Linked DNA regions of Homo sapiens: all the other regions are linked to region 4. Evidence: fine-mapped expression QTL. A gene starts in region 4. Each other region holds a variant in brackets. All regions are shown on one strand. Distances are between the middles of the regions.

Region 1 (8,105 bases), 81 kb after region 4:
ACTAACTTAATCTAATGGGCAAAATTGTCTTGAAAGGTGCTTTCTTGGAGTAAAATTAGAGTCACTAGACACTAATAGAGCTAAAGATATTAGAGAAATTTAAAACACACTCCAGGTCATGCCAGCTCTAAGCGCTCATTTTGATAAGCATTGCAGCATGAAGTCACCTTGGATCTTTTTCCCTTTTTTTTTTTTTTTTTTTTTGAGATGGCCTCTCACTATATTGTCCTGGCTGGTCTTGAACTCCTGGGCTCAAGCACTCCTCCCATCTCAGCCTACTGAGTGTTGGGATTACAGGGGTGTACCCCGATACCTGCTTAGCTTTGGATCTTTACATTATTTAGCTTTTAGATATCTAGCCCCAGGTGAACAATTTTCTTTAGTTAAGTAAATGCTATATTTGTTACTTACCCTTTTCTCCTTTTTCCAACATGAAGAAGTGGGTTTACCATGAAGCTTAAACTGCAGGGCTTAAACTCCAGGCCTTGCCATGTGTTCACATGGTCAAACCTAATTTTGAATTTGTGTTTTGCATTTTTTAGGAGGGCCCCCAAAATTATAGTATCAGATTCCCCTAACCCGAATCCCCTGTTAACATTTAAACATCTGCTCTATTGTTTTGGCAGTTGTTTTTCTACAATGTCAACATGACCCCTTCTGAATTGATGGATGAGATCATCAGCATCCGGGTAAGGGTCAGCAAGTAGGAAGGTACTGCTCACTCACTGCCAGGCAAAGCCAATCATTTCTTCACTACTCTTCTTTCTTCCAGGTTTATAATTCTCACTCTCTGCGGGCAGATTGTCTGATGGGGGAATTTAAGGTGAGTGACAACAGTCTGCTTCATTCAACTTACAGAAAGATGAGAACTTTCATAATAGAAATCTGATTCCTATGTACGCATCTTGGTGGCATCTTGGGAATGTGTAAGGGTTCAGCATGATGACACTTGCTGAAGGCTGCTTGGGGCTTGTCTATTTCCAAAGTATAACAGTGAACAGAGCTCTCAAAGCAAGATGCCCTGAAGCTGCCATATCAGGGCCCTTCCCAGGGTTGTATCTGGATGGAAGCAAATCCACTGCCACAAAGGGAAGGGGTGTTGACCATGGCAAGAAGTCCACCATCTACCTCCACTTACTGGGGGCCCCAAAGCTCCATCTGCAAAGCCAATTATGGTAAATTCAGAGTGTGAAAGGAAAGCCAAACAAGGCAAGAGGTTCAGGGTGCTTCTATAAGTAGCTCTCACTGGAATGAAAGGACAAATACTTGGTTGGCTTCTTCCCAGCAATTCTACATGGAATAGGCTGCCTCTCCAAGAAAGGAGCACCAGTCACTAGAAGTCCTAGAGGATGATCTGGGTCAGGCAGACCTGTGTTCATACCCTGTCTGCCACCAAGTAGCCACATGTCCCAGAGGAACTCAATCTCTCTGATCCTTAGTTTCTTCATCTGTAAAATGGGATCATTGAGAAAATTAAATGAGATAGTATGTGTAAAGCACCTAGTACAGCACCTGGCACATTGAAGTGCCCAGTCAATGGTTATATTAATAGTAGCATTAGCTGGAGGAGAAGGAGGAGGAGGAGGAGAACTGGACAGGAAATTGGGCCAGGTGAATTTCTGTAGGATGACCAATGGTCCCACTTTGCCTGGGACTTTAGTGGTAAAACTGAGGATAACCCAGGCAAACTGGGTCATATTGGTCACTCTGCTTCTGTGGTCCCTTCCAGCCCTAAGACTAGCTCATTCATTCAATAGTGACTTACTGAGGGTCTTCCATGTGCCACACATCAGACAAGGCACTGGGGATACAGAGAGGATAAGACGGAAATGTTGGGTCTCAAGGAAATTTAAGTGTAATCAAGACATGATATTTAAATATAATGATGGCTTCTTTAAAGTGACTAGACTGATTTTAAAATCTACTTAGACTACTTTCGATTATTGTTTTCCCAGATTGATGTTGGATTTGTTTATGATGAACCTGGTAAGTAATGTTCTCCCCATCAATATGAAGTCTTAAATTCATTCCTTCTAACTCTGAAGATGATTCTAAGAATCAAGACAATTTGGGGGGGATCAAAGAATTAAAGTTAAAGGAATTTTTTAAAAAATATTTTCTTAATGAGGGAGAGGAGAGGATACTTAGTGGGAATAAATAACAGTAGCTTAGAAAAAATGTCTAATTTTTTATCTTAACATTCAAAATAGATGATTTCTATGTTTTGTGAGGATATTTTGATCTTATCAAAATTAAATTATAAAACTCGTTGGTACAACTTAGAGAGTCTTGTTTGAGTTACACGAGGACAGAATGGTGGGGGTGGGGTGTAGGGAGAGTACAAAACAGAAGACGTGAAAGTGGACACTCATCTGGGGAATTTGGTGTGTCGTGAAGAGGCTTCCAAGAAAATGCAGCTTATCTTATGGCAGAGGAATCACAGACTTATCAGTACCTTTTTAGCATGTCCATTTCCTTTTACTCCTTCTCTATTTTAGGCCATGCTGTCATGAGAAAGTGGCTTCTTCTCAATGACCCGGAAGATACCAGTTCAGGTTCTAAAGGTTATATGAAAGTCAGCATGTTTGTCCTGGGAACCGGAGATGAGCCTCCTGTGAGTCCCTACATTCTCTACTTTCTACACTTCTCACTAAAAAAGAAGGCCAAGAGTTAAGCATGTGGGCATGGGTAATTGTGAAATGGAGCACAGCTTCCCGTCAATACCCTCAGATTCCCCCTATTCTTCAGAAGCTGTTCTTTTCTTCATCATGGAATTATTGTTCTAGCTTACTTAAACTCTTATCTGATGTCTATGAGTGAGCATTTAATTGAGAATCGATGAATGTGTTTTTACAACGTCCTTGCCTCATTAGAAAGACTGCTTTTATCTAGAAAGCATGACCTACTTGCAGAATTAGGCATTGCTACCTAAATAGTTAGTGATTATTCTAGGAAACTGGGTGGCAAACTGCAGAATATAAGTGGCCAGAGAGAAGTTGAAGGGACATCAGGATCACACACACACACACACACACACACACACACACACACACGCACAGGCTCTTACTATTTGGTGCTCATAAAATGACAGAATGATACAAAAACATGAGCATTGATTTTGTGGAGCAGTTTTGAGGTTGAAGGAAAACTGGTGGCTGATGGCAGGCTGAACTCTTAAGCCCCAAACACAGGAAATCTTAATGGAAACGATTCTGAATGGTTTCATTTTATAAGCATTAATTTGGCTTTTTCCAAGTGCTGCTTTTCTGTATGTATAATTTAAATCATGTGCCCCTAATAGCCTGAGAGACGAGATCGTGATAATGACAGTGAT[G/A]ATGTGGAGAGTAATTTGTTACTCCCTGCTGGCATTGCCCTCCGGTGGGTGACCTTCTTGCTGAAAATCTACCGAGCTGAGGACATCCCCCAGAGTATGTACTGATTTAATCTTGCCCCAGAATTGTTGATTATGTGTGTGATGAAATGTGTTAAAAATCAAACTTTAATAGTGATTCGTGTCCCTATCGTATGTTTTTCTTCTGAAAGGGCTTCATGGGCTTATTTTCATTCATTCTGGCCCAGTTGAAAGCTACCTGAGCAGGCTCATGGCACAGCTAGTTGGTTGCTGATCATGTTCCTTGTTGAGTACCTGCCTTTGGCCCATTTGACTCTCTCTCTTGCTATTCTATATCTTCTCTTTATTCTAGAGGATGCTAAAGAGATATGAGCAGTCAGCACTTCCAACCCCTTTTATCCCAAATGAAAATGTGAACTGTTATTATCAAATCAAGGTGTTTGCTATCCAGCTATAAAAAAAAAATAGCAGAAATTAGCTGGGCATGGTGGCGGGTGCCTATAATCCCAGCTACCTGGGAGGCTGAGGCATGAGAATCACTTGAACCCAGGAGGCGGAGGTTGCCGTGAGCCACACCACTGCACTCCAGCCTGGGCAACAGAGTGAGACTCCATCTCAAAAAAAAAAAAAAAAAAAAAAACATGCTGAGCAAAGGGTAGTAATGTCCCAATGACTAGAAGTCTGCCACTATTGTATTATGAAATATATTCAGCAAGAGACTGGTTGCATTTAAGGGATCGCTTCTAGTGATTCCATTTATAGGAACTAGTGTGGTTATCCCTCTGTCACTGCTGATGGCCCAGCCTCCTATTTGCCTTGCTGGGCCTGTCTGGTTCCTGCTGGGCTCTGGGACATGGGACCCTTCTCCAAGTCCCCAGGAGGCTGCACTCACTATACAGGCCATGGATCTCTTCAGGATTTGCTGCTTTTCTTGGGAATCCTTTTCCTCTTTTAAGATCCTATGGTCTTAAAAGATAGTATTGTAGGGCCTCCCCATACCCACCTTTCTCTCAAAAATGTGTCAAATGGGCTGGAGGCAGTGGGTCATGCCTATAATCCCAGCACTTTGGAAGGCCAAGGTAGGAGCACTGCTTGAGGCCAAAAGTTCAAGACCAGCCTGGGCAACATAGCAAGACTACTGTCTCTATTTAAAAAAAAAAAAAAGAAGAAGAAGAAGAAGAAAGAAATACATAAAATAAGGTAAATTAAAATCCTGATCTCTATTTACTTTTTAGCTTAACTATAGATTGTAGTTGATTAAATATATTATTTGTGATTATGTCAAATTTTCTTGAATTTCTCTGAAACAGACTAGGACTATATCATTTTGACCTAGAGCACCTTTCTCCCAATTGAAAGCAGGCCTGAGTTTGAGAATCATCTTTTACTCTCACTGAATGAACTTTGTTGTATTTTTTTTCCTCCATAAAAGATCAAGTTTTTGTTTTATTTTATTTTATTTTGAGATAGAGCCTCACTCTGTCACCTAGGCTGGAGGCTGGCATATACTGGCTTGATCTTGGCTAACTGCAAGATTCAAGTGATTCTCATGCCTCAGCCTCCCAAGTGGCCGGGATTACAGGCATGTGCCACCACACCTGGCTAATTTTGTTTGTTTGTTTTGAGATGGAGTCTTGCTCTGTCACCAGGCTGGACTGCAGTGGTGTGATCTTGGCTCACTGCAATCTCCGCCTCCCAGGTTCAAGCAGTTCTCCTGCCTCAGCCTCCCGAGTAGCTGGGATTACAGGCGCGTGCCACCACACCCAGCTAATTTTTGTATTTTCAATAGAGAAGGGGTTTCACCATGTTGACCAGGATGGCCTTGCTCTTCTGACCTCATGATCCACCAGCCTTGGCCTCTCAAAGTCCTGGGATTACAGGCATGAGCCACTGCGCCTAGCCTGTTGCAACTATTTTGATGTATAAGAGAACTTTTAAAATTTTGCCAAATTTCTGGGAATTGAATTTAATTTCTGCTGTATAACTATTACCTTCCAGTGGATGATGCCTTCTCACAGACAGTAAAGGAAATATTTGGAGGCAATGCAGATAAGAAAAATCTCGTGGATCCTTTTGTAGAAGTTTCCTTTGCTGGAAAAAAGGTTTGTACATGATCTAAATGCAGATGCTGCTAGTAATAAATATCTAAAACTACTGTGCTTTCCTTGGAGTGAATTCCTGCTTACTCTTTGTTAAAATAGCCCCCTGATGAGCCAGGCACTCTGAGGGAACACAGATTATCTGAGTCTGAACACGCCAGACTTCTCCACAGGTTTATTTTGGAGTGGAAAGTATGCAGAACACAAATTAGAAAATTCAATCTTTTGAGAGATTAAAATAGGGAAGGCTACCACTGAATTTCTGGAATTGCTTTTCAGGTCCAAACGTTATCTTAACCTTAGGCAAGCTCTCTGGCCAGCCACACCCATCCCTGGTAAATGTTGTAGGACAGAGACCCCCCCCCAGTGCCCTGTTGCCCCTTCCTGTCATGTTTCTCACCTTCCATGCCCCAGTAAACTGTTGAAACCAGAGAATGGGTCAGGGAAGCCCCATCCCACTCCCCTGAAAATATCTGGGAGACTCTTGGTGTAGGGACAGCTATAACCACCACTTTTACCTACAGAGATGGTCAAAGATTGGAGAGTTGAGAGTTGGGTGAGATTCTACAGTAGAATAATAGCACATCATGGACAGTTATAGACAAAAAGAACTAGCATCTTTTATGTGTTCGAACCATATAATTATGAAAGCAAGATTCGGCAAACCACATACACATACACATATGACTGGTGCTTTTTTCTAAAAGATTCAGTGGGTGTGGTAGAAAAGCCTTCAGCTCTGGGGCAAAATGAGGCCTGAATTAAATTCAGGCTTTACCCCACTTCATAGGCAGGCAAATCGTTTACCCTCTGAGTTTCCATTTCCTGAACTATAAAGGGAGATAATAACAATCACAGGATTGTTGAGAGGTTTGATTCATTCAAAAAGTCATTAAGTACCAGATTCTGTCCCATGTGCTGGGATATAGAAACGAACACATGGGAATAGAAGAGACAGACAATAAACAAGCAAACAAGAAACTGAATAATTTTAAATGGTGCCCAGTGCTACAAAGAAAACAAAGCAGGGACAAGAAGTGATTGGTGCAGGGGAGGAGTGTTTATCCAGGTTATCAGGTGAGACTCCTGGAGAAAGTGACAGTTGAGCAGAGGCCTGGATATGCAGAGATTGGGGAGGGAGGCATCCAGGCAGGGAGAAGGGCGATGGAAGGGCCCCAAGGAAGAAAATGTTAGCAGGGAAGGCCTGCCCATGTGGCTGCGGTAGAGCCAGCAAGCGGGGAAAACTAGGAGGTCAGTGAGAAGTAGGGTTGGGACAGTAGGGCTTCATCAGCCCAGGGAAGGATTGGGGCTTTATTTGAAGTGTACTTTGAGGGCCCCCTGAAGATGTTACACAGAAGTGACATGAAAGTCAGGAGGCAAGAGAGGGTGTGGAGTTCAGATAGACAACCGCAGGTGTCCTGGGGAGAAACATTTCAGGATCAGCTTGAAGACATTCCAGGATCTGCTTGAAGACGGAAGTGTCAGGGTGTGGCTGATTCTGGTTCTGAGCCTGACCACCTGAATGAAGAGCGATGGAAAGACTGGAACAAGAGTCAGTTTGGGGTAGAGGGCAGGGAGGCTGGCGGGCAGGGTCAAAAGATCTGTCTGGATGTGTTAATGGTAGATGCTTCCCAAACGGTATGTAACAAATGCTCTATCAACCTTATCTCTTGCTTTTTTACATTAATCTAATGTTAGAAGCCTGACAATTGAAAACTAATTAAAAAAAGGTTAAAAGCAAGCTCCTAGTGCCTCGAAACAGCAATGATTAATATTAAACCCATGTCATATTTTACAAATCATCAAGAAAAATAAAGTTTAACCAGGTTCCTAAGTATATAAGTAAACTGCTAAAGTCATAATCTAGTATGCATAGATTGTAAACTTTTAGAAATTAGAAACTTGAAAACCTACACTTTTGCTTTGGTGATTTTACAGGTTTGTACAAACATAATTGAGAAAAATGCAAACCCAGAGTGGAATCAGGTCGTCAATCTTCAGATCAAGGTTTGACTTTATTTTCTTTCTGAAAAAGTAAGAATACTTACTTAATAATTACTAAATCATTGAGAAATAACTACTTTTTTCTGTCTCATTTTTTTAGTTTCCTTCAGTGTGTGAAAAAATAAAACTAACAATATATGACTGGTGAGTTGAAAATACGTATGTGTCTAATTCAACATAAAATAAACATTGGATATTGTGAAACATTACTCTGGATTGTCTCTTTCTGGTATTTTGCTTTCCTTCCAGAGGAGAGGATAAATTGCTCCTGGAACTGGGCGTTTCTTAAAACAAAATTTAATAATAGTGTTACTGCAAAAAAAGCTTCGATTATTTCGGTTCAACTGCTCATAAACAAAAGAAGGGGAACGTGCTGAAAATGCCCCAAGATAAGAAATCAGGGATTTAATTATCATTAGGCTGTCCAGAATAGACTTCAGAAATACAGTCAAGCATTTCTTGGGAAGAATCACCAAAACATTCTGAGAGCAATTCATTGTTATTGTTTAAAAAGAAAATGGTAAAACTACCTCAATGAAGGCAAGGAAAAGTCCTTGAAATGTTCTGATAGAATTTTTAGTAGACCAGCCTTCTAGCACTGATTGGCCATAACAAGACCATTCTTGGAATGTTCTAGTTGGATGTAGCAT
Region 2 (8,105 bases), 68 kb after region 4:
TGACTGTATCACGAGGTCCTCTAGGGCTGCCAACTCTTCAGCACTGAGTGGGTGGACAGATGCCATGTAGGCAAGTGTCATTATCACAAGTGACTGCACACAAGGGCAGTTGGCAGGAATATTGCTGCTGAGCGTCTGGAAAGAGGATCACAATACATCTCAGGAATGATTACATTGCTGGAGCTATGATGGAGAACCATTTCCAAATGTTAGCGGAAACATCACAAGTAAAGAAGAGTGGATCACATGCAGTTACTGATATTCAGAAAGGAGACAGGTCAGTGTTGGATGCAGTGAGAAGCTTTGTAGGATTTGACCAAGTGACATTATAATTATTGGAGAGGCAGGATGGCATTCCTACAAGGGAGTTGTGAAGAGCTTGTCATAGCCGGAGATGGACAGTGAGGAATCTTGAACCACTGTGAATCAACAGATCTGGATTTGAGCATTGGCTCCACTATCAAGCTGTGTGACAGTAGGCATGTCACTTAACCTCTCTGAGCCTCAAGTTCCTTTCTTACAACATCAGGAGGTTGGATTTAATAATATGTAGGGTCTCTTCCAGCTCCGAAGTTCTATGATTCTATTAAAATGGCCTGGTCATGGCCGGGTGCAGTGGCTCACGCCTATAATCCCAGCACTTTGAGAGACTGAGGTGGGTGGATCACTTGAGGTCAGGAGTTCAAGACCAGCCTGGCCAACATGGCAAAACTCTGTCTCTATTAAAAATACAAAAATTAGCCAGGCGTGGTGGTGTGCGCCTATAGTCCCAGCTACTTGGGAGATTGAGGCTGGAGAATCCCTTGAACCCAGGAGGTGAAGGATGCAGTGAGCCAAGGTCATGCCACTGCACTCCAGCCTGGGTGACAAAGTGAGACTCTGTCTCAAAAAAAAAAAAAAAAAGCCTGATCAAAGCCAGGGTTCATATATTATAAGAAGATGGGATGAGAGAAGTTTCTTTTTCTTTTTCTTTTTTCTTCAGATGGAGTCTCGCTCTGTTGCCGAGGCTGGAGTGCAGTGGCGCGATCTCGGCTCACTGCAACCTCTGCCTCTGGGCTCAAGTGATTCTCCTGCCTCAGCCTCCCGAGTAGCTGGGATTACAGGCGCCTGCCACCACACCTGGCTAATTTTTTTTTTAAATTTTATTTTTAGAGAAGGGGTTTTGCCCTGTTGGCCAGGCTGGTCTTGAACTCCTGACCTCAGGTGATCCACCCGCCTTGGCCTCCCAAAGTGGGGATTACAGGCATGAGCCACGACGCCCGGCCGAGAGAAGTTTCTTTGGTGATTACTTCTGTTTGCGAATGCCAGGATGAGCAGCTGCGCTTTGGTTCAAATAGGCTGAATCAAAGAGCAGAAAGTGTTTCAAGGATTAAATGAACAAATGCTGCAGAAAGTTTGAGTAAGAAGAGACCTGAGGCTGGACCGTTGGATTTTGCAACATGAAAGTCTTTAGTGGCCTAGACAAGAGCAGTTTTGGTGGACTAGGAGGGCAGAGGGCTGGCTGGAAGAAGCATGAGAATCAGAGACAGAGTGAAGAATGTGAGTAAAAATGATTCTTCTGAGGAGTTTGCTCCCAAGAGGGGCAGGAAAAATGGAGCAGTAACTGTAGGGGGCACCGTGGAGTCAATGAAAGTTTTGTTTTTTAATATTCTGGGTGATATTTCAGCGTGTTTATATTTTGATGGGAATGATCCAGTAGAAAGGGGGAAACCGATGAACGTATAAAGAGGCAAAACTCCTTAAGTAGCAACAGGAGATAGGATCTGTGCAAATGCGGAAGAGTTGGCTTCAAGTCAGGGAGCACAGATAGTTCAGTGACTAATTGTAGCAGGAGAGAAGGCAACAGATACAGGTAGATGATTGATTTGGAGTTGGAAAGATGTGGAAATTATCTTCTAATTGCCAATTTTCTCAATGAAATAAGAAGCCAGGTCATTAGTGGACAATGAGAAAGATAGAAAGGGTGTTGGAAGCTTTCAAGATGCAAAACAGGTGGCCGTTCAGAAAGGTAAAGTGATTTGACTGTGCTGGTTAATTAGTGGCCATCTCAGACCAGGATTCAGGAAAGTTTTGGGATAGATATCTTGGAAATGTGGTAAGATGGCCAGGCAGCCCTGTGAGGACACTTACAGTTTGTGATCAGGAAATTAAAGTGAGATCAGTCCAGTGAGATGTGTGTGCTTCCCAGCCAAGTTCAGCTGGCTGGGTGCAGAGGTGAAGTCAGTGGAGGGTTGAATAAACCAGGTAAGCACAGTGAAGTGAGAGGGGGAAAGGGATCGAGGGGCATGCAGTGGGGTGGTTGCAGTGTTAGGTGGCAGGATCTAACCTGGGGTAGGGGTAAAGCAAAGACATGGAGGAAGTGGGGTGCAGGGAAGGCAGTGTGCTCATTAGATTGGGGCTGCTTGTGGGCTGGAGTAAGAGAGGAAGCAAATTGGAAAGATACAAAAGATGGCCTCTCAGCCAGGCGCGGTGGCTCACGCTTATAATCCCAGCACTTTGGGAGGCCGAGGAGGGTGGATCACTTGAGGTCAGGAGTTCGAGGCCAGCCTGGCCAACATGGCGAAACCCCGTCTCTACTAAAAATACAAAAATTAGCAGGGCGTGGTGGCAGGTGCCTGTAATCCCAGCTACTCAGGAGGCTGAGGTAGGAGAATCACTTGAACCTGGGAAGCAGAGGCTGCAGTGAGCTGAAATTGTACCACTACACTCCAGCCTGGATGACACAGTGAGACTCCACCTCAAAAAAACAAACAAACAAACAAACAAAAACACAAAACCACAAAAAACAACAAAAAAGATGGCCTCTCTAGTGGACTGAATAGTGGCCCTCTAAAATGCATGTCTATATGGAACCTCAGAATATGACCTTATTTGGAAACAGGGTCTTTGCAGATGTAATTAGTTAAGATAAAGTCACACTAAATTCAGTGACTGTAGTTTCTTGTTTGTTTGTTTTGTTTTTTGAGACAGAGGCTCTCTCTGATGCCCAGGCTGGAGTGCAGGGGCATGATCTCAGCTCACTGCAACCTCTGCCTTCCAGGTTCAAGCGATTCTCCTGCCTCAGCCTCCCAAGTAGCTGGGACCACAGGTGCACGCCACCACACCTGGCTAATTTTTTAATATTTTTAGTAGAAACGGGGCTTTGCCATGTTGACCAGGCTGGTCTTGAACTCCTGGCCTCAGGTGATCCACCCGCCTCAGCCTCCCAAAGTGCTGGGTTTACAGGTGTGAGCCGCCAAACCTGGCCCACTTGTTCTTATGAGAAGACGGGAGGACACAGAAGGAGAAAGGCTGTGTGACCACACAGAGGCAGAGACTGGAGTTATGCAGCCACAGGCAGGGCATGCTCAGGATTGCCGGGAGCCACTGGCTAGGAAGAGACAGGAAGGATTTTTCCCTCGAGGCTTCAGAGAGAGAACGTCTCTGCCAACATCTTGATTTTATACTTGTAAGGTTTGGAACTGTCGGGGAATACATTTCTTTCTTTTCTTTTCTTTTTCTTACCTTTCTTTTTCTTTCCTTGCTCTGTCACCCAGGACAGAGTGCAAGGGCATGATCATGGCTCACTGCAGCCTCGACCTCCTGGGCTCAGATGGTCCTCCCATCTTAGCCTCCCGAATAGCTCAGACTACAGGTGTGCACCACCACACCCGGCTAGTTTTTAAATTTTTTTTGTAGAGATGGGGGGTCTCCCTATGTTGCCCAGGCTGGTCTCAAACTCTTGGGCTCAAGCGATCCTCCTGCTTCGGCCTCCCAAAGTACTGGGATTAGAGGTGTGAGCCCCTGCGCCTAGCCAGAGAATACATTTCTATTGTTTTAAGTCACCCAGTTTGTGGGACTTCCTGCGACAGCCTTCAGAAGCTAATACAACCAGCAGCTTCCTGTTCAGTGGGTGATTCCTGACTTGGTGTGGCCCTCTGTGGTTGTGAAAGAGTTGCTCTTTGTAGATCCACTTGGCTGTGGATCACATTCAGGCCTGGGTCTCACGAACAGGGCCTGCCAGCACAACTGCTAGCATTTCACTCATGACACAGCTTGCACATCAGGGTGTGTTTAACAGTGCCATAGGGGCCCCCTCATTCTTTGTGGAACCCATAGCATTCTTTGTGGAGCCCGTACCATTGTTTAATCCTCTGCAGCTTCCTGCCACATAAAGGGGAGGTTTCCTGCTTGAATATTCTTCTGCTGCAAGGCACAGAGGCTGGCTGTCACCATGGCTTAGGCTGGTTTCCTCTGACCCATCCCTTTAGCCTAAAGTCTGAATAGCAGAAGACGTTCTTTGTTATCTGCAGGCTGATTCTAGAGCATCCACTGAGAATGTAATAAGTACTTGTCCAGAGTCCAGCATTGCAAAGGGGTATGATTGACCCCGACTTTTTCTCCTGCTTACTGCCATAAACAATCACCAGCCTAAAATGCTGTAATTATGGCAAGGAGGAAGTACAAATCACCAGCCTAAAATGCTATAATTATGGCAAGGAG[G/T]AAGTACCACTTAGGCCCAGGATGATGGAAGGAAGTTCGTCTTCGCTGCTTGGAGGAACCCAACAGCTGTCAGCCCCAGCCATTGCTCGGTCCAGGACAGGTTTACCGAGGGGAAGCGCCTGGCCCCCAGTGCTTCCCCGAGGCTGGTGCCAAGGTTGGGAGGAGCACCCCTTCAGCCATCTGGGTGTTCTTTCCTGAGAGTTGTTCAGTAGTTTTTCCAAATGTGAAGGCACATTTGTGCCTGGGATCCTGTTCCCCTTCCCATTTGTTTACTCATTCCACATTTATCAAGCACTTTCTATATACTTTGTGTAATGAGTTCTGTAAGGCATGGGGCAGAAACAAAGAAGCAAAGGCAAGCTCCTTGCTTCTGAAATGCCTGGGAGTAGGGGAAGCCTATGGGTTGACAAGCAGGTGCAAGACTATGTGGTGAGGACTAGAAAGAACAATGTGTGGCGGGTAGGAGAGAGCGGGACTAACTCCATCTGGAAGAGGTGGGGAGGGCATGTTGGAAGACAGTAAGTTTCATCTGAAACTTAAGAAGGAGAGGAACTTACCTGGTAGAGAGTAGGATGAAGAAGATTCCAAGAGCTTGGATCCAGGTGCCCTAAGAGAGACAGCAGGTAAGCCCTTCTTTTGAAGTCTCTTCAAGAATAGGCAAGAGGAGGTCCAGATCATCTTGCAGAGGACAAAGATTCCTTATCTTTGACTTCCATGAGGTTTTCCCAGTAGCCTGAAAAAGATGTTGAGGTACTAGGAGCATAACATGTCCTTCACCTACAGCCTGGTTTTAAACCCAGTTTTATACCAGAGAGGCAGTGTGAAAACTTGGTCCTGGTTTTAGCTCAGCTTCTAATAACTTAACCACAGGCAAGTTGCCTTAGCTTTCTGGACCTCAGTTTTTCTGTCTGTAAAATGGGGTGAAGGGTAGGTTGGATCAAGGATCTCTAAGGTCCCTTCTAGGACAACATTCTGTGGGTCCATGGCTACTTGAAGGAAGTGTGAAGTGAGGATCTACAGAGTGTTGAGTCAAAGGATCAGAGGACAGAGTAGGGAGTCACACTCAGTGAGTAGGAGACAAAAACAGGGGCCCACAGAAGAACCTGAAAAAGCAGATCGGGGGAGGAGAGCTGCAATGATCTAAAAATATGTATATGAGCACTGGTGTCCAAGGCTGTGGAAGATCCAATATGGAGATACAGAAAAGGGCACGGAGCTTGGCAAAGAGAGGTGATTGACTTTTGAAGAACAGAAGCCAGGCTAGGATGGGCGAAGCATGAATGAATGGATGATGAGGAGCAGGGCCCACCCTGGGCTAAATTGCAAAGCAGTGCATGTGGAGGCCCCCTTTTCCCTTGTGGCTGCCTCTTCCTCACTTTGGGACCCCTGCCTGCTGTGCTGCCCATGGACTGCTCCAGTGCCCCATCCCCACACCCCCCATAGCTGGTTCCAGGAAGTGTCCTGTGCTCCAGAAGAAGCCCCTTCCAATTGCAGTGGTCTGAATGGTTGTGTCCCTCCACAATTCACACATTGAAATCCTAACCCTGAACGTGATGATATTAGGCAGTGAGGCCTTTAGGGAGGTGATTAGGTCACGGGGCCAGAGCCCTCATGCATGGGATTAGTGCCGTGATCAAAATGGGCTCAAGGGAGCTCCTTTGCTTCTTCCATCATGGGAGGCAGAGAAGGCTCCAACTGCAAACCAAGAAGTGGGCCCTCACCAGACACTGAATCCGCCGGTGCCTTGATCTTGGACTTCCCCACCTCCAGAACTGTGAGAAATAAATTTCTGTTTTCTAAAAGCCACCCAGGTTGTGGTATTTTGTTATAGCAGCCCAAGCAGGTGAAGACACCAACCAAAACTGATTACACAGCAAAACTAAAAAATAAACAGTTAATTTATTGGGTGCTTCTGTATGCCAGATACTGTGCTAAAGGCTTCGCCTATAGATAATTACACCTTTACAGTAACCCTGTGGTAAATACTATTATTTTCCCCTCTTTACAAATGAAGAAACTGAAGCTTAGAGAAATTAAGAAACTTACTCAGACTCACATAGCTCGAAAGTGGAGGGTGGGGAGTGGATTGAGCCTAGGCCACGTGGCTTCAGAGCCCAAGATTTCAAGAGCTATGCTACATAGTAATCTGATGAAACTCATTCATACCAGGATGTGAATGACTGACAGGTGACTGTCCTTGGAAATTAAATCTCTTTCATAATCTTGCATCGTAGAGAAGGAGTTTCAGAATCCAAAAGCAGGGTTCTAGACAGGGTGGCTTGTCTTCTAGGCTCTCTTAGATTATATTGTACAGATTACCAGAAGTTCTAACTCTTTGTGTATTAAGAAAAGAAAAGCTAAAGTTTGTCAGCGAGTTTCAAAGAGCTCGTGAATAAAAGAAAGAGGAGAGGTAGTAGGCAGAGTTGATTTTTGGTTTTTGGTTTTGTAGGGAGAGAAAGATCTGTGTCTACTTGAAGGCAGAGGAAAAGCTGCAATAGAGACGGAACCCCCAGAGGTACACAAGAGAGAGGAGACATTTGGGGAGCCTGAAAATAATCAGGAGGTAGTAGGATCTGCAAATATTCAGGAGGTAGCAGGATCTAATGCATGGCAGAGGGTTGAGATTTTCACTCTGCTGAGCAGGGTAAACCTTTTCCTGAGTGCAGAGGGAAGGTAGAGGGATAAAGGAGGGGACACGTGTGTGTTAAAGTGACAAACCAGGAGGAGGAAGGAAGAGCAAGATGATCACCTTGGTGCTTGGCAAGAAAATGAGGAGAGTTTCTCTTCTGCCATTAGGGTGGAAAGAGCAGTTGTGAATTAGGAGGCTCAAGCAGGAAACAGTACAAATAGATCACGAGCAGATCTCTAGAGAGAAGATCTGCAGTGGGAGGGATGGAGTTGAAGCTTGTCATTGCAAGACTGCAGTGTTCCGTGATGTTTCTTCCTTTTTCCATCCTAACACTAATGAGAACTCAGCAATCCCTGGCTGGGTCCAACGGTGCCATCTCCTCTCATTGTCCCTGTGATCTCTGCCATTCTCTTGGTCTCTTCGAAGGCAACCTGAGCAACAGCCCCGATGTACTGTGAACACATTTTCCTAAAGAATTTTTCCAAGTCACAAGAAGTCCCAAGTCAGTGTCACCAAGAGGATCTCCTTCACCTGCCACTTTAGGAACACTTAAAACATAATGGCAGACAAAACCGTGTCCTGGAAACCTGAGCCTTTGGACATTTACAGGATAAGGGCTATCCCTCACTGGGTTTCTTTCTGATATTTTAGGAGATGGGGAAGAAGATGAAGGTGATGAAGACAGGTTGGACAATGCAGTCAGGGGCCCTGGGCCCAAGGGGCCAGTTGGGACGGTGTCGGAAGCTCAGCTTGCTCGGAGGCTCACCAAAGTAAAGAACAGCCGGCGGATGCTGTCAAATAAGCCACAGGACTTCCAGGTAGCAACGGCCTGGCGTTCTGCTTCTTTGTTTAATCTTTATATTGCCCATCTTCTGGCAATTGCAGTGATGTTTCAGTGGACCTATTCCAATGGACAATGGCTCAACCGGTAAAGAGAGATGTCAGTGTATAAACCCAGTAAGAAAAGCTCTCCATCTTTCTTCTGCAGGCACAA
Region 3 (8,105 bases), 21 kb after region 4:
GAGGCCCATCTAAATTATAGAGGGTAATTTTGCTTTACTTAAAGTCAACTGAGTGTAAATGTTTATCACATCTACAAAATACCTCGACAGCAACATCTGGACTTATGTTTGACCAAACAATTAGACACCACCATAGCCTAGCCAACTTGACATTAAAATGAACCAGCGCAGCTGACCACCGGCACAGATGTAGCAAGCCAGTCTCAGGAGTCCTGATGTCTTTCAGGCCTTTTTTTTTTTTTTTTTTTTTTGAGACAGGGTCTTGCTCTAACACCCAGGATGAAGTGCAGGGGTGTGGCCACTGCAGCCTTGACCTCCCAAGCTCAAGCAATCCTCCCACCTCAGCCTCCTGAGTAGCTGGGACTATTGGTGCATGCCAGTATGCCTGGTTAATTTTTAAATATTTTGTAGAGATGGGCCGGGTGTGGTGCCTCACGCCTGTAATTGCAGCACTTTGGGAGGCCGAGACGGGTGGATCATTTGAGGTCAGGAGTTTGAGACCAGCCTGACCAAAATGGTGAAACCCCCATCTCTACTAAAATACAAAAATTAGCCGGGCATGGTGGTGGGCACCTGTAATCTCAGCTACTCGGCAGGCTGAGGCAGGAGAATCACTTGAACACAGGAGGCGGATGTTGCAATGAGCCAAGATTGCACCACTGCACTAGATCCTGGGCGACAGAGTGAGACTCCCTCTCAAAAAAAAAAAAAAAAAAAAAAATTTGTAGAGACGAAGTCTCACTATGTTGCCCAGGCTGGTCTTGAACTCCTGGACTCAAGCGATCCTCTGGCCTTGGCCTTCCAAAATGTTGGGATTACAGGTATAAGCACCGCACTGGGCCAGGCCTTTTCAATAAGGTTCTGACACACTGGCTGGTAGGTGAACAGCAAAGGAAATGGTTCCGCGCAAGAGGGCGGGTGGTTTGGCTAAGAGAGCTGTTCAGTTCTCCCGGAAACCTTGTTTGGAGGCTGGCATTGGGGTTAATTACTGCAGTGGTGACCTCCGCAGAACTGAGTGAGAGGCAGGCGTAGCTAATCGGAAAACAGGAAATGTCCTGAAGAACGACTTGAGCCCTTGAGCACACTCAGAGTGTGCTCTGCATTTGAGTCAGTTGTTATGTTCTGAGCTGAAAATATTTTATTGCTTTCCATAGGAAGAAACAGTCATCTTAATAAAATTAGACGCAGGAGCCAGGTTGGGGGGTAGGTAATGTGGAGAAAGGGGAGGGAGTTTCCTGTAATTCAATTTGATGTTCAGTGCCTGCAGGTTTAACCTTTTTTTTTTATTTTTACAGAGGTAGAATAAAATAATTGACTAATATAAATATGTGACTGGCTGCTGATAAGAAAAATAATTTATCTACTTTTTTTTTTTTTGCCTGATGTGTTTATGTGTGAGAATAGGTTTTCAATAAAATGTAACATATACACATTTTGATAAACATCAGAGCCTCCTTCTTGAAAGAGATTGAGCTGGGTTTCTCCAGAAGGGTAGGAGCCAATGCCAGCCACTTAGTTTTTCCTTATTAGCTAGGGAAATGGGAGGTGCAGTGGTTAAATGCATGGGCTCAGGAGTCATACTAGACCTGGTTAGAGGGCTTCGTCCTAGCCCTGTGATCTTGAGCAAGTTACCTAACCATTCTGGGCTCTCTTTGCTTCTCTGCAAACTGAGGATAATAAAACAGTGCCTACGTCATAGGCTTGCCAGGAGGATTCAATGAAATGATGCATGTAAAGGGCTTAGCAGGCCGGGCACGGTGTCTCACGCCTGTAATCCCAGCACTTTGGGAGGCCGAGGTGAGCGGATCACTTGAGGTCAGGAGTTCGAGACTAGCCTGGCCAACATGGGGAAACCCTGTCTTTACTAAAAATATAAAAATTAGCTGGGTGTGGTGGCACACACCTGTAATCCTAGCTACTCAGGAGGCTGAGGCAGGAGAGAGATTGTAGTGAGCAAAGAGCGTGCCATTGCACTCCAGCCTGGGCAACACAGTGAGACTCTAACTCAAAAAAAAAAAAAGGTGGGGGGCTTAGCAATGCCCAGCCTGCAGTGAGCATCCCCTAGAGGTAATGCCATTAGCATCAACCTCACACAATGAGTGCCAGGAGCTGCAGGAAGTTCTGGTTGAATAGCTCCACCTGGTCTGTGGTCAACTGGCATCTGCCTGGACTCAGCCACTCCCCTTTGTTTTCAACACACAATTGAATCATGTGTTCAGGAACATGCATTGGGAGAATTGTTGGGCCACTTGGTTTTTCTCATGAGTTATAAAATTTTGAAGTTATAAAATCCAGTTTCTAATACCCTCCTCCTTTAAGTACTTATATCAGCCAAATGAAGCTTAGCCTGGTACTTGAGGCTTCACAGTGAGACCATAACCTTCCCACAAAGCCCGTTTGCCCCCTACCCAGTTCTATGCTCTTTGGTTCCAGCTGGTTGGGTCCTGGAGTGTCCCCAGATGTGACATAACTGGTTCTCCCTCCTCCATGCCTGATCCACCCACCCTATTGTGTCTACTGGAGTGAGCTCGTCTTCTGGCTCCACATTTTCAACCCCTCCTTGCCCTTGAATTCTCATCTAGCTCAGCCTCTGCATCTTCTGTGCACACAGCCTGAAGTCACCTTTCTTTCCTCTGAATTTTTCTGTGCATTGATACCCCTCTGATAGCAACTGAAGTCCTTTCTCTATCAGTCCCGTATAGCCACATTTCCTCTCCCCACTAGACCCCCTGAGGGCAGGAACCATGTCTTGGGTATTTTTGTGTCTCCTACAGTGCTCAATGCCTGGCAATTTCACAAACATTTGTTGGGTGGAAGAATGAAGGAGCTGATTAATGTTTGCGGAAGAACTCACTCAGTGAACCATTTCTGTGGGCTGAGCTGTGAGGTCTCTTGGCCTGAGCTGACCAGTCATTATTTCTGTTTATTCCCCCTCTGACAGGCAGGAAGAAACTTCAGGATGAGAATGAGACAGGCAAAAGCCTGGTGGAGCTTTGTGCTATTTCTTTTCTTTTCTTTTCTTAGATGGAGTTTTGCTCTTGTTGCCAGGCTGGAGTGCAATGGCGCGATCTAGGCTCACTGCAACTTCCGCCTCCCAGGTTCAAGCGATTCTCCTGCCTCAGCCACCCGAGTATCGGGGATTACAGGTGCCCACCACCATGCATGGCTAAATT[T/G]TGTATTTTTAGTAGAGATGGGTTTCACCAAGTTGGCCAGGCTGGTCTCAAACTTCTGACCTCAGGTGATCCGCCTGCCTCAGCCTCCCACAGTGCTGGGATTACAGGTGTCAGCCACCGCACCTGGCCTGTGGCACTTTTTTTTTCTTTTTCTTTCTTTTTTTTTTTTTTTTTTGGAGATGGGGTCTTGCTCTGTTGCCCAGGCTGGAGTGCAGTGGCTTGATCTCGGCTCACTGCAACTTCCGCCTCCTGGGTTCAAGCAATTCTCCTGCCTCAGCCTCTCGAGTGGCTGGGACTGCAGGCGTCCACCACCATGCCCGGCTAATATTTTTTGTATTTTAGTAGAGACGGGGTTTCACCCATGTTGTCCAGGCTGGTCTCGAACTCCTGAGCTCAGGCAGTCCACCCGCCTTGGCCTCCCAAAGTGCTAGGATTACAGGCGTGAGCCGCCATGTCCAGCCAGCCTGTGGAACTTTTTAAGACTAAGAATTATCTTACACTCTTCTGTTTCCTGTTACTGGCACACAGTGGATGCTTAATAAATGTTTGTGAATGAATGAATGAACAAATGAATCTTTTCACACTCCCCAGCTGCTGACTCTGGAACAATCCTGTGCCTCCTGAGGGCAGAGAGGATCCATGGTCCCAGGCTTGGCCTCAAGGTAGCTTGCAGCGTGTCTTCCGTGTTCTCTGTTTCCTGGGTCAGGAACCAGGCTTGGGACTTGTTTCATGTTGACAAGCGCTGGTTTTTTCTGTGACCTCCCTGGAGCCCTTGTCCCTGCCTTGGCTCCCTGGTTGGAGTCTTGGGGACTTGGAGACTGGAATTTTGCTTCAGTGCCATCTTTCAGTGATGCAAATCCTACCCCAAGCCTGGGTGCTCAGTTTCTATTGCATTATTTTCTGCCTTCTCCTTGCTTTCCCTTCTTGCTGGGACTTCTTGGAATCTCCTATCTTCTCTCTTGAAGGACCGCCATGGTCTCAGGGTCCAGATCCACTCCTTTGAGACTCAGTTCTCCACCCCCCCAAGCCCCGGTTATGGGAGCAGGGTAGTGGTAAGGTAGAGGGAGATTGGTGGTACTATTTCATGCTTGTTGAATGCTGGGATTCCTAACCTTTTTCAAGCACATTTGAGAATCTGATGAGAACAATGAGCTCTTTCCTCCAAGAAAACTCACAGATGCAATATTTTGTGTATTAGAGCAAATAATCTTGGAGAGTTTCAGGATACCCTGGAACGCAACCATAAACTTCCTTATGGACATTTTCCAAGACGCCAAGCCCATCACATGTGTTACATTTACGAATCTTCATTATCCAGCATTTCTGACAGCTTCCAATAAGGCACTGTGGCATGGTGGCAAACACACACAAACACAGATTTTGGAGCCAGAGGGATGTAGTTCAAAATCTGGCTGTTTCCTTATTAGCTGTGTGATTGAAGGCAGGTTAACTACTCTCCATTTTCTTGGCTTAGAAATGGGAATGACCATGTTTACCTGGAAGAATTGTCTCAATGGTTAGAGACACTGTGGTAGAATGCACAGCCTGGCACCTAGAGATGATTCTGTAGAGGGAGCAGCTACAATTACACATAGAAACCATTTTGTCCAGTTCTATTTAAGTTAAAAATTCTTTGCATGTCTCCTGTTTCTCTCAAGAGCACTTTCTTATACTGTAACCAGAGAGGAGGATTGGGAGTTTCTGTTAGATGAGGAGAGGGAAGGGTGGGGTCAAAATGGAAGTGTGGGAGGGGAAGTTTCTGGACAGCGTCTAGGGGACCTCAGAGTCAGATGCAGTGAGGGGCTCTGTAGGCCACATAGAGAGAGCACAGGCAGAACCAGCCAGGATAGGTCTGGGCACAAGCCGACGAGGAGCGTCACGCTGAAGCTTAGGAAGGGAAGCCATTGGGCTGTGTGTTGCCCTCTCAAGTGGAAAAGTTAATGCTTAGCAGAGTGAGGTCCATGACTCACGGCCTTGCTATGCTGAGGTCTTGGAAGAATGAGGTGGTTAGTCCCACAGGCAGCTGTGTGCTGGGAGCCAAAGCAATGTGACATTAGCTAAACAAAACCCACTACCTCCTACATTCCACAGCAGCAGAGGAGAAGCAAAGGCTGAGGAGTGATTCAAAGTGTGGCCACTAATGTGAGACTGCCTGGGTCTCAAATCCTAGCAAGACCATTTATTAACTGGGTGACTTATTTGTTTTTTGTTTTGAGACTGAGTCTCGCTCTATCCTTTAGGCTGGAGTGCAGTGACACGATCTCGGCTTACTGCAACCTCTGCCTCCTGGGTTCAAGTGATTCTCCTGCCTCAGCCTCCCGAGTAGCTGGGATAATAGGCACCCATCACCATGCCTGGCTAATTTTTGTATTTTTAGTAGAAGTGGGGTTTCACCATGTTGGCCAGGCTGGTCTCCTGACCTCAAGTGATCTGCCCGCCTTGGCCTCCCAAAGTGCTGGGATTACAGGTGTCAGCCACCGCACCCAGCCAACTGGGTGACTTTGAATGTTACTCAGCTTCTCAGTTTCCTTAGCTGTGAAAGGGGGATGAAAATAGTAATATATACCTCCTAGGGTTTGTTTTTTGTTTTTGGACAGGGTCTTGCTTTGTTTCCCAGGCTGGAGTGCAGTGGTGTGATCTTGGCTCACTGCAGCCTTGACCTCCTGGGCTCAAGGGATCCTCCCACCTCAGCCTCCTGAGTAGCTGGAACCTATAGGTGTGTGCCACCACACAGAGCTAATTGTTGTATTTTTGTAGAGATGGGGTTTCATTATGTTGCCTACGCTGGTCTTGAACTCCTAGGCTCAAACAATCCTCCCACCTTGGCCTCCATAAGTGCTGGGATTACAGGCGTGCACCACCTCACCTGGCTTCTCCTAGGTTTTTAAGATTAGATGAATGCCGGGCGCAGTGGCTCATACCTGTAATCCCAGCACTTTGGGAGGCTGAGGCAGGTGGATCACTTGAGCTCAGGGGTTTGAGACCAGCCTGGGCAACATGGCAAAACCCCATCTCTAGTGAAAAAAAAAAAAACATAGAAAAATTAGCTGGGTGTGGTGGTGTGCACCTGTGGTCCCAACTACATGGGGCGCCGAGGTGGGAGGATCTCTTGAGCTGGGAGGCAGAGGTTGCAGTGAGCCGAAATAGTGCCACTATACTCCAGCCTGGGCGACCTCGCGAGACCCTGTCTCAAAAAAAAAAAAAAATTAGATGAGATAATGCTGACAAAGCATTTTGTACTCGAAGATTAGCTTTTATTTGGGTAGGTATTTGGGGACTTGGGGACCCAAAAGAAGCCTCTGCTCTTTGGACTTTGCTACAAGGAAACTTTAAGCACTTGCTGGATTTGCTCGTGTGCTCATCCAGGTAGGTGTACTGTCCAGGCTCAGACACAGAGAAGAAAGATCTTGTGTCTTCAGAAAAGGTGGCCTCGGAGTAAAGGAAGCCCCAAATTATCCGCTGGTCTTAGAAAGTTTTCATCTACTAATGACCTTGTACCGAAGCCTATGGGAGGGAGTCCAGCTTAATATTGAAGCTGTGTTGGCATCTTAGCACACTCAGATGCAGCATGAGCTTCAGAGCTGAAATTCCAGGTTTAAATCAGGGCATCACTGCCAGGTGTGAGCTCAGATAAACGTCTTAACTCTTTGAGCCTCAATATCCTCATCTATAAAATAGCAATATCAGCATCTCAGAGGTTAGCTTTGTTGGCTTCTTTCTGCAGCAAGCCAGAGATGCAGAGGCTCTGGGTAGCCTTGGTGAGAGAAGGGCAGAACATCACATCCCTTAACTCCATGTAGACCTGGAGATGGGAAAACCTTGTAGACCAAAAAATGCCATTTCATTTGGAAAACTGTGATTCAGGTAAACACCCATCCTAAGCGATGAATGGGGAGATGTGGGTGCAAGTAGACCCTTGGGTAATGTTCTTAGAATAAATGAATGGCCCACGCTCTTTAATTTTTTTATAAATGATTGCTGTCTCTTCCTTTATCTCTTTTGCAGATGAGAAAAAGAAAACAAAGAAAGTTGATAATGAATTGAACCCTGTCTGGAATGAGGTGACTTCATTGTTTTTTCAACTTTGTTTTAATAGATAAGCTATTTCTGATTGTCCTATCTTTGGGTGAGAGGTTACCTCTTCCCTTCGGAAGGAGAATCTCTACATTTCACCCCCACCCACTCCGTTTCCCTTTGTGTTCACCAAGAGAGCAGAGCAGTTCAAGGAGAGTAGCTCACCAGCGACCATCTTCTGTACAGCAGTGGCGCGGCAAGGGAAGCCTGGACTGGCAGGAGAGTTGAGTTCTTACCAGGCACCGCCACGAGCTTGCTGTGTGAGCTTGGTCCACTTATGTTGCATATCTGGGGCACATGTGCAGAGCAAGGGTGGGATTAGATCATCTCCAGAGTCTCAGAAGGAAGGCCTCATAATTAAAAACATGTCTGCATGTGACAAATCAAGAGTGTATCACATGATTCTCTGTGTGTCTAGCTGGGTAATGACATGTATTGGTTTTATGTTGATAAAAGTGATGTCCAGTATGCTTCATGTGGAAACTTTTGAAAACTTCAATTAATCTTTAAAAAATTAACTTGGGTCCCACTCTCTAGAGGCAACTACTATTAACATCTGTGATGTATCACTAAGTGTTTATTGGAGGAATATATTTAATGAAATACGACATCTGATAACACAAACTAGCAGCATATAGCAAATGATTTCCTCTCCTACACTTTCTTGCTATTATATCCTAAGCATATGCCCATATTAATTCAAAATTATTTTAATAATTCAAAAGTATTTTAATTCAAAAGCATAAAATTATTTTAATAATTCAAAAGCATAAAATTCAAAAGTATTTTAATGACTGTGCAATATTCTACTGAAGACATATAACTTATTTACCTCCCCCCACTGTCGACCTTATATCT
Region 4 (8,105 bases):
GTCTTTTTCTCCCACATGAATAGGTAAAAGGCAAATTAAAACTCCAGTGAGATGCTATTATATGCTCACCAGAAGGGCAAATGTAAAAAATCTAACATTGGTTAAGTATGACAAAAATTTAGAACAACAGGAAGTCTCATACACTGCTGGCAAGAGTACCATTGTGGAATATAATTTGGAATTACCTTGTAAAGGTGAAGAAATGCATACATTCTCTGGCCCAGCAAGCAATTCCACCCATAGATTAGACTCTAAATAGACTCATGCACATTTGTGCCAGAACAGTCTTGGACTGTTCAGAACAGCACTGTTTGTAATAGCCCCATTCCCTGAACTGTCCAAATGTCTGGCAGTAGTAGAATGAATTAATCAAATCTGGAGGCCAGGCGCAGTGGCTCATGCCTGTAATCCCAGCACTTTGGGAGGCTGAGGCAGGCGGATCACGAGGTAAAGAGTTCGAGAACATCCTGGCCAACATGGTGACACCCCATCTCTACTAAAGATACAAAAATTAGCCGGGCGTGGTGGTGTGCACCTGTAATCCCAGCTACTCAGGAGGCTGAGGCAGGAGAATTGCTTGAACCCGGGAGGCAGAGGTTGCAGTGAAACGAGATCGCACCACTGCACTCCAGCCTGGGCTACAGAGCAAGACTCTGTCTCAAAATAAATAAATAAATAAAATGTCAGAAACTCATACAATGAAATGCCATATAGCAACAAGAGTGAAGGAAGTAGAGCTACATGAATGAATTTCACAATATAATACTGAGAAAAAAGAAGTCAAACACGAAAGAATCCATTCTGTATGAGTCCATTTCTATAAAGTCATAATACAGCAAAGAATTCACAAAGTATGAACACATGTATGTGTGTACCTATATATATGAATATATGTGTTGTATGTAAAGTTCATAACATACAAAAGAATTTATATCACCAAACAAAGGTCATGAGCAAGCAAACCTAAACTGTTTTGTTGTTGTTGTTTTCGGTAAAAACTACAAAGAAAAGCAAGGAAATCATTACCATAAAAATCAGGAGAGTGGGCCAGGCATGGTGGCTCATGCCTGTAATCCCAGCACTTTGGGAGGCCGAGGTGGATGGATCACCTGAGGTCAGGAGTTTGAGACCAGCCTGGCCAACACGGTGAAACCCTGTCTCTACTAAAAATACAAAATTAGCCGGGTGTGGTAGTGCACGCCTGTAATCCCAGCTACCTGGGAGGCTGAGGCAGGAGAATTGCTTGAACCCGGGAGGTGGAGGTGGCAGTGAGCCGATCACCCCACTTCAATCCAGCCTGGGCAACAAGAGTGAAACTCCATCTAAAAAAAGAAAAAAAAATCAGGAGAGTGGTTACCTCTGGGAGAAGGAGGTGGATATGATATATGGGGTATTCCAGGGGCTTCTGGAGGACTGGCAATGTTCTGTCTTGACCTGGATGCTTGTTAAACTGTCACGTTTATGTAGTATGCATTTTTCTGTAAATATATTTCACAGTAAAAATGGCAAATAGAAAGCAGCCAGATAAAATAAAAGTAATAATCTCTATATTCCACTAAAACTGCCAACATGTCCACTAAATACAATAATGAACACAGCACTGGGTAATTGGTTCTTTGCTTTAAGCCTTGGAGAAACTCGTGGAGACAGAAGAATTCTTGTAGGTTAAGTCATGCTTATTCAATGTACTTGAAATGTTTATTTACAGGTGGGTCTGCTTGATGTGTGTTCTAAAGCAAAAAGAAGCCCAATGTTTCTTCATCCCAAGTTTTAGCCTTTTCTTCTGAAATATAACGAGATCCTGATTTAAAGTCAGCCTGCACTAACAGAAACGCTGTGAGACCACAAATAAGCATGAACTTCTTACATGTGCAAATTACTGTGTGCTTTGTGCCAGCTCCTATGCTATGACCTTTATCTTATAACAGCCTTTATCCCCAGTTCATAGATGAGGAAACTGAGGAAGAGAGGGGTTAAGAAACTTGCTCGCCAGCACGGTGGCTCAAGCCAGTAAAGCTCAAGCCAGTAAAGCTCAAGCCACGGAGGCCGAGGCGGGCGGATCACAAGGTCAAGAGATCGAGACCATCCTTGCCAGCATGGTGAAACCCCGTCTCTACTAAAAATACAAAAAAAAAAAAAATTAGCTGCGTGTGGTGGCGCACGCCTGTAGTCCCAGCTACTCGGGAGACTGAGGCAGGAGAATCGCTTGAACCCGGGAGGCAGAGGTTGCAGTGAGCCAAGATCGCTACACTGCACTCCAGCCTGGTGACAGAGCGAGACTCCGTCAAAAAAAAAAAAGAAAAGAAAAGAAAAGAAAAGAAACTTGCTAAGATGACGTAGCTCAGGGTGGTGAGGCAGAGTCTCACACTCAGATCTGGCTGACTAACCCCAGGCCGCCTCTTGTGATCTCAGCCAAGCTGCACTGTCTTCATGCACCCTCTGGGACAGAAAGACACCATGGGCAGCTGTAGGTCCAGAAACAGTGGGGAGTCACTTCTCCATTTTCACTGAAGGCAATTGGCAGCATTTGAAGAGCCGGGAAAACTTAGGCGCCCAGCTCTCACCTCTGAAGGGGTTTTGAAGAAATTCTATGTTCAGTCCTTTATATATATATATATATATATATATATATATATATATATATATATATATATATATATATAATTATTTATACATATATGTAATTATTTATATATCCCATGCCTGGATCGCGTTTACTTGAAATAAACGCTGTCATTCGTTTGCCGTCCAGTAAGAGGCACCCTTTAGCTGCTTTAAAAAAGCTGAACATAGGGTTACTGAGTGGGTGTGTTCAATGGCGTGAGAAGTAACAGCGAAAAGTCAAAAGCAAATAATGACTAAAGTTTTAAAACTCCTTGAAACTCAGAAAAGAATGAAAGCAGTGACGGAAAAATCAATTAATTCAGTTTCACGAACCATTGCTAAAAGGCAGCAACATTTTAGTGGTTTCCTGACCTACCCGTATTTCTTAGCTCCAAATTCATGTTGGTTTCATTTGTCGCACGGAATTATTTTTAGTTTAGGGTTTGTCCTTTTCACTTCCACATTTCCCGAATTCATAAGTCTGTGCCTGCGGCACTGCGTAGACGCGGGGAGTTCGGTATCAGTTTACACGTTGCCTTCAGTAAAATCCGCCAGAGGTCCACCCATTTTGCCTTTTCCCCTTCCTTGCCCTGGGAGAAATCCTCCCTTCACTGGGAGAGAACTTCTCTCCCAGGGCGGTGCGACCCGGAGCTCCAGCGCCCTAGTCTCCACTTCGTTTGCTGAAACTTGCTTTCTACCAGCTAAGAACCATGCTGCGAGTGATTGTGGAATCTGCCAGCAATATCCCTAAAACGAAATTTGGCAAGCCGGATCCTATTGTTTCTGTCATTTTTAAGGGTAAGAAAAAGTTTTCTTCTTTTTCTGAAGTCCTGTTTTGGAATGTTAGTTTCTTGAGTCACCTTCTTGAAAAGTCTGCATTTAGACAGCTGATGAAGCCAAGTCTCTCCAGCAGCGTTTGTTACCTGCGCAGGACAGGGGAGAGGACCCGTTTCTGGGGAAGGCATTTAATTTTCTCCAGGGCTTGAGACTCATGGAATGACCTGATGTTTTAGCTCTAAGAGTGTGATTTCTGTAAGCTCTTGGCAGAAAACGTATTTGCGAATCACTAAATTTCAGGTATCAACAAACATCTGTATTGGTTCAAAGTAAGTTTCAGTAGTCTTAGATGCATTTTTTCTCTGCCTGTGAGAAATGGGTAAAGGAGGAAGAAGAGCAATTAAATTGTTGGAGACACCATTACTCCTTGAACCAGCCTGACGCTGCTTTGATTGTCACTGGGTTTCTGGGAGGTGGGATGGGTGAAGTTCATAGTTTTATTGAGTTTTCCTGCCCTTTTGTGCCTTTGTAATTGTTTTTATATCTAAACTGTTGGGGAGCTTTTTTTGTACATTCTGTAGCTTTTAAATTGCTCATTGAGGAAAGAACTCTGGACAGCTAGTTTGCAATTTGGGGATCTAGTTCTATCTTGCCTGCTGAATGACCTTGGGCAAGTTACTTCATTTCTCTGGGATCTCAATTTTCTTTTCTGCAAAACAGGCGAGAAGGGTTTAGACAAGATCATCTCTAAAAACCTCATGGTTGGCTGAGCACAGTGGCTCCTCAACCCTGAGCCAACTTTGGGAGGCCAAGGCAGGAGGATTGCTTGAGCCCAGGAGTTTGAGGCTACAGTGAGCCGTGATCACGCCACTGCACTCCAGCCTGGGTGTAAAAATAAATAAAAATAAAAGGCTCATGGTAATTTTAAAAGGCTATTTTTCTATGACACTTGATTGCCATTGCAGGGGAGGGGACAGGAATGCTTGGTGTCATGGTACAATTTGATGTAAGTGACTTAGTTTTGGCTAAAGTGGGGTTTCTAAATCTCAGTGTGGAGGCTTTATCTATTTTGTTTGTCATTGGTAAGACTGCCAACTCACTTCTTGGCAAGAGGGATGGGAAAGAGAGGGAAAGGCAGAGAGAGTGGGAGCATGGATAGACATGTGTTTCCTGACCATGCCTTGCTACATTTCTCGTTTCTTCCAGGAGCCTGACTGCTACTCCCTGTCAGTTCCTGAGGCATCTATACCTTTCGCCTTTCTGTTTCCCGTTTTTCCCCTTTATTTCTCTTCTTAAACCTCTCTCTCTGAGGATGAGCAAGAAAATGAAAGAAATGAAACTCAAAGCTGGCTGGCTGGGTGTGGTGACTTCTGCCTGTAATCCCAGAACTTTGGGAGGCTGAGGTGGGTGGATCACATGAGGGCAGGAGTTCGAGACCAGCCAGGCCAACATGGCAAAACCCCATCTCTACTAAAAATACAAAAATTAGCCGGGCATGGTGGCACATGCCTATAATCCCAGCTACTCGGGAGGCTGAGGCAGGAGGATTGCTTCAACCCAGGAGGAGGAGGTTGCAGTGAGCCGAGATCATGCTACTGCACTCCAACCTGGGCAACAGAGTGAGACTCCGTCTCAAAAAAAAAAAAAAAAAAAAAAAAAAGCTGGCAAATTGTTGGTTGGTTAAAAAAAAAATCTAAAGGGCAAAAATTGGATTTAAAAAAAATTTAAAAAAATTTTTTTGAATAAGACTGGGTCTTGCTATGTTGCCCAGGCTGGTTATAATTCCCTTGCTCAAACTTTCTTCCCATCTCAGCTTCCCAAAGTGTTGGGATTACAGGCGTAAACTACCACGCCCAGCTTAAAATTGGGCTCTTAAAGGACAATGAGGTTTGAAAATCTGGCTAGTGAATATCATGGACTCACGTTATGTCAGAGTTTATTTACATGTGTTAGGTTTTATTAATTTTTTGTTTTCTTGAAGCAGTTACATAATAGAGACATAATATGAAGATTTTACATCCTTCATCATTGACATATAAAGACATTAAAATATATTTGGATCAGTCCGATCATGTAATTATTTAAGTATTATAGATTATAGAGGAATTGGAGTTAATACTATATTGAAATCTGACTTGTTATTTGTCTGGAGTTTGTATGCATTGATGAAACATTTTAAATGATGAAAAATATATCTAAGTCAATGAATGCAAACAATCAATTGAAAGTGGAAAACTTCAGTTAAGTTGGCAAATATAGTCTATACAAACAATTACACATTTAACTTTAGTCTCTTTTCTGGCCTCCTTTTTTCATACAAATCGAGTGGTAAAGTCATTCATTCATTTAGCTAACAAGCAACCTGACAGAGGAAAGGGCACTCAACTCAGAGTAGGAACATCTGCATTCCAGCTGACATTAACTCAATATCTGATTTAACCACCTGGGTCTCCAATTTCTCAGCTGTGGCATGATGGGAACTGGTCTTTAGATGCCTTCCGTCTTTTAGATTCTAATTTTCTAGTTCCAGGTATTGAGTTAGCTGCTCTCAGCAAGATGTGAAATGCATTGCCTTAGGTGCTGGAGGGGATATAGCAACAAACACAGCACTCTTCTTGCTTTCAGTCTATGTCGGTGGTTTAAAATCCTGGTGATGGCAAACCCTTTACAGGTGTGTTCCCAATTTTGAGCACTGCGTAAAATTAAGTAACATTAAGTTCTGACTGAACTGAGGATACTTATAGCAAAATACTGTCCATCAGAGGGAACATGGAACAAAGGCAGACACACTTCATAGTGTGGAGTGGGGCAGGGTATGGTAAACTGGAAAAAGCCCTACCATGCCTGTAGTCCCAGCTACTCAGGAGGCTGAGGCAGGAGAATCACTTGAGCCTGGGAGGCGGAGGTTCCAGTGAGCAGAGATCGCACCACTGCACTCCAGCCTGGGAGATAGAACGAGACTCCATCTCAAAAAAAAAAAAAGGAAAAAGCCATACCAGAAGATCAAGGCGGCATCAAAGAAAGTCCCTGTGTTAACAGAAATATGTAAACATTTTGCCTCTTGGGTAAATAAACAAAGTCAGGGCAGTAAGCAGCTCTTCTCAAACTATAAGACGGTGAAGAATGGCCAGGGGAAGTGATTGTTAATGGTGAAGCTCGCATAGACACTGTGAGGCCCTATTAGGCTATAGCTACACTGTACTTGGGATTGTGCTGTACTGACAACCAACTGGTTTACAGTTGACCTCAGTTTTTCGTGTTCAAACCCTTTCTTTCTTTCTTTCTTTTTTTTTTTTTTTTTTGAGACTGTTTCACCCTGCCATCCAGGAGGGAAGAGTGCAGTCAGTGGTGTGATCATGGTCTCGAACTCCTGGGCTCAAGCGATCCTCCCACCTCAGCCTCCTGAGTAGCTGAACTATAGGCACACACCACCATGCCCAGCTAATTTTTAATTTTTTTTGTAGAGACAGGGCCTCACTCTGTTTCTCAAGCTGGCCTTGAACTCTTGGGCTCAAGCAATCCTCCTGGCTTGGCCTCCCAAAGTATTGGGATTACAGGTATGAGCGCCCAGTTGTGTTCAACCGTGAGTGACCCTTCTGAGGCTGTCAAATTACTCAGGGCCTGGTAGGAACTAGGAGGATCTGGGGGTTGCTGTAGTCCTGGTGCATGGTTGTTGGTGATGTTCAGCAGCGCAGGTGTAGATTATGAAAGCCACAACGCTTATGTAATTTTTCATATCCTTCGGGTACACCAGGTTCCATGAGCCAGATCCGAATTGAGGCTGGAGTGAGTGCCTGTGAGCCAGGGGTGGCCATTCTGCCCTAAGTTCCATGCGGACAGCCAGGCTGTGAAGCTGAATCTAGCTGAGATTAGACTACACAGACCTCTGAGACCAATTTCAACTCTGAGACTTGATGATTCTTCCAAACAGTCCTCCAAACAGAACAGGTTGTTAAAAAACTTTTTAATTTTAAATAATATAATATTTTTAATTTCTAAAATTAAAAATGCATGTAGACATAAGATAAACAACCCAGAAGGGATTATGCAACTAAAAAGTGAAAATTCTCCCCACACCTCTTCTATTCTTTCTCTCTCCCACTGTTAGTCCTTCAGGGTCACCACTCTGAACAATTTGATTTGAATCCTTCTTGATCTTTTGCTCTAGACATATAAGTTGTCCCAACTACTGCCTGTTAGCAACAGTACTGCAGTGGGTGTCCCTGTGGTGCGTGTCTTTGTGAATATGCATATTTCATTTTTATTTATTTATTTATTTTTTAGATGGAGTCTCGCTCTGTCACCCAGGCTGGAGTGCAATGGTATGATCTCGGCTCACTGCAACCTCCACCTCCTGGGTTCAAGCGATTCTCCTGCCTCAGCCTCCTAAGTAGCTGGGATTACAGGCGCCCGCCATCACGCCCGGCTAATTTTTGTATTTTTAGTAGAGACAGGGTTTCACCATGTTGGTCAGGCTGGTCTTGAACTCCTGGCCTCATGATCCGCCTGCCTTGGCCTCCCAAAGTGCTGGGATTACAGGCGTGAGCCACTGCGCCCGGCCATGAATATGCACATTTCAAAAGCACAGCTTCTATCTTTGTGTGTGTTTGTGTGTGTTTTTCTTTTTTCTTTTTTTACACAGAGTTTCGCTCTTGTTGCCCAGGCTGGAGTGCAGTGGCATAATCTCGGTTCACTGCAACTTCCACCTCCCGGGTTTAAGTGAT

The links. PIP is the estimated chance that this variant, and not a neighbour inherited with it, causes the effect.
Region 1: its variant is fine-mapped to the expression of MYOF in whole blood (INTERVAL, PIP above 0.99).
Region 2: its variant is fine-mapped to the expression of MYOF in whole blood (TOPMed, PIP above 0.99).
Region 3: its variant is fine-mapped to the expression of MYOF in gastroesophageal junction (GTEx, PIP above 0.99).

What each region holds. Positions count from the first base shown.
Region 1 is chr10:93,396,741-93,404,845 of GRCh38, reverse strand. It overlaps MYOF (myoferlin), which reads left to right. Exons shown (of 54, transcript NM_013451.4): 8 at 627-689; 9 at 773-823; 10 at 1,956-1,986; 11 at 2,499-2,614; 12 at 3,302-3,428; 13 at 5,351-5,454; 14 at 7,390-7,458; 15 at 7,556-7,599. Among named protein-coding and RNA genes, the nearest start is that of MYOF, 82 kb to the left of the region's middle. The variant G/A (reference allele first, on the strand shown) is at 3,335.
Region 2 is chr10:93,409,397-93,417,501 of GRCh38, reverse strand. It overlaps MYOF (myoferlin), which reads left to right. Exons shown (of 54, transcript NM_013451.4): 6 at 7,763-7,929. Among named protein-coding and RNA genes, the nearest start is that of MYOF, 69 kb to the left of the region's middle. The variant G/T (reference allele first, on the strand shown) is at 4,483.
Region 3 is chr10:93,456,011-93,464,115 of GRCh38, reverse strand. It overlaps MYOF (myoferlin), which reads left to right. Exons shown (of 54, transcript NM_013451.4): 2 at 7,179-7,234. Among named protein-coding and RNA genes, the nearest start is that of MYOF, 22 kb to the left of the region's middle. RefSeq lists an enhancer at 3,694-4,316. The variant T/G (reference allele first, on the strand shown) is at 3,174.
Region 4 is chr10:93,477,404-93,485,508 of GRCh38, reverse strand. MYOF (myoferlin) reads left to right here and starts at 3,175. Exons shown (of 54, transcript NM_013451.4): 1 at 3,175-3,402. The coding sequence starts at 3,315.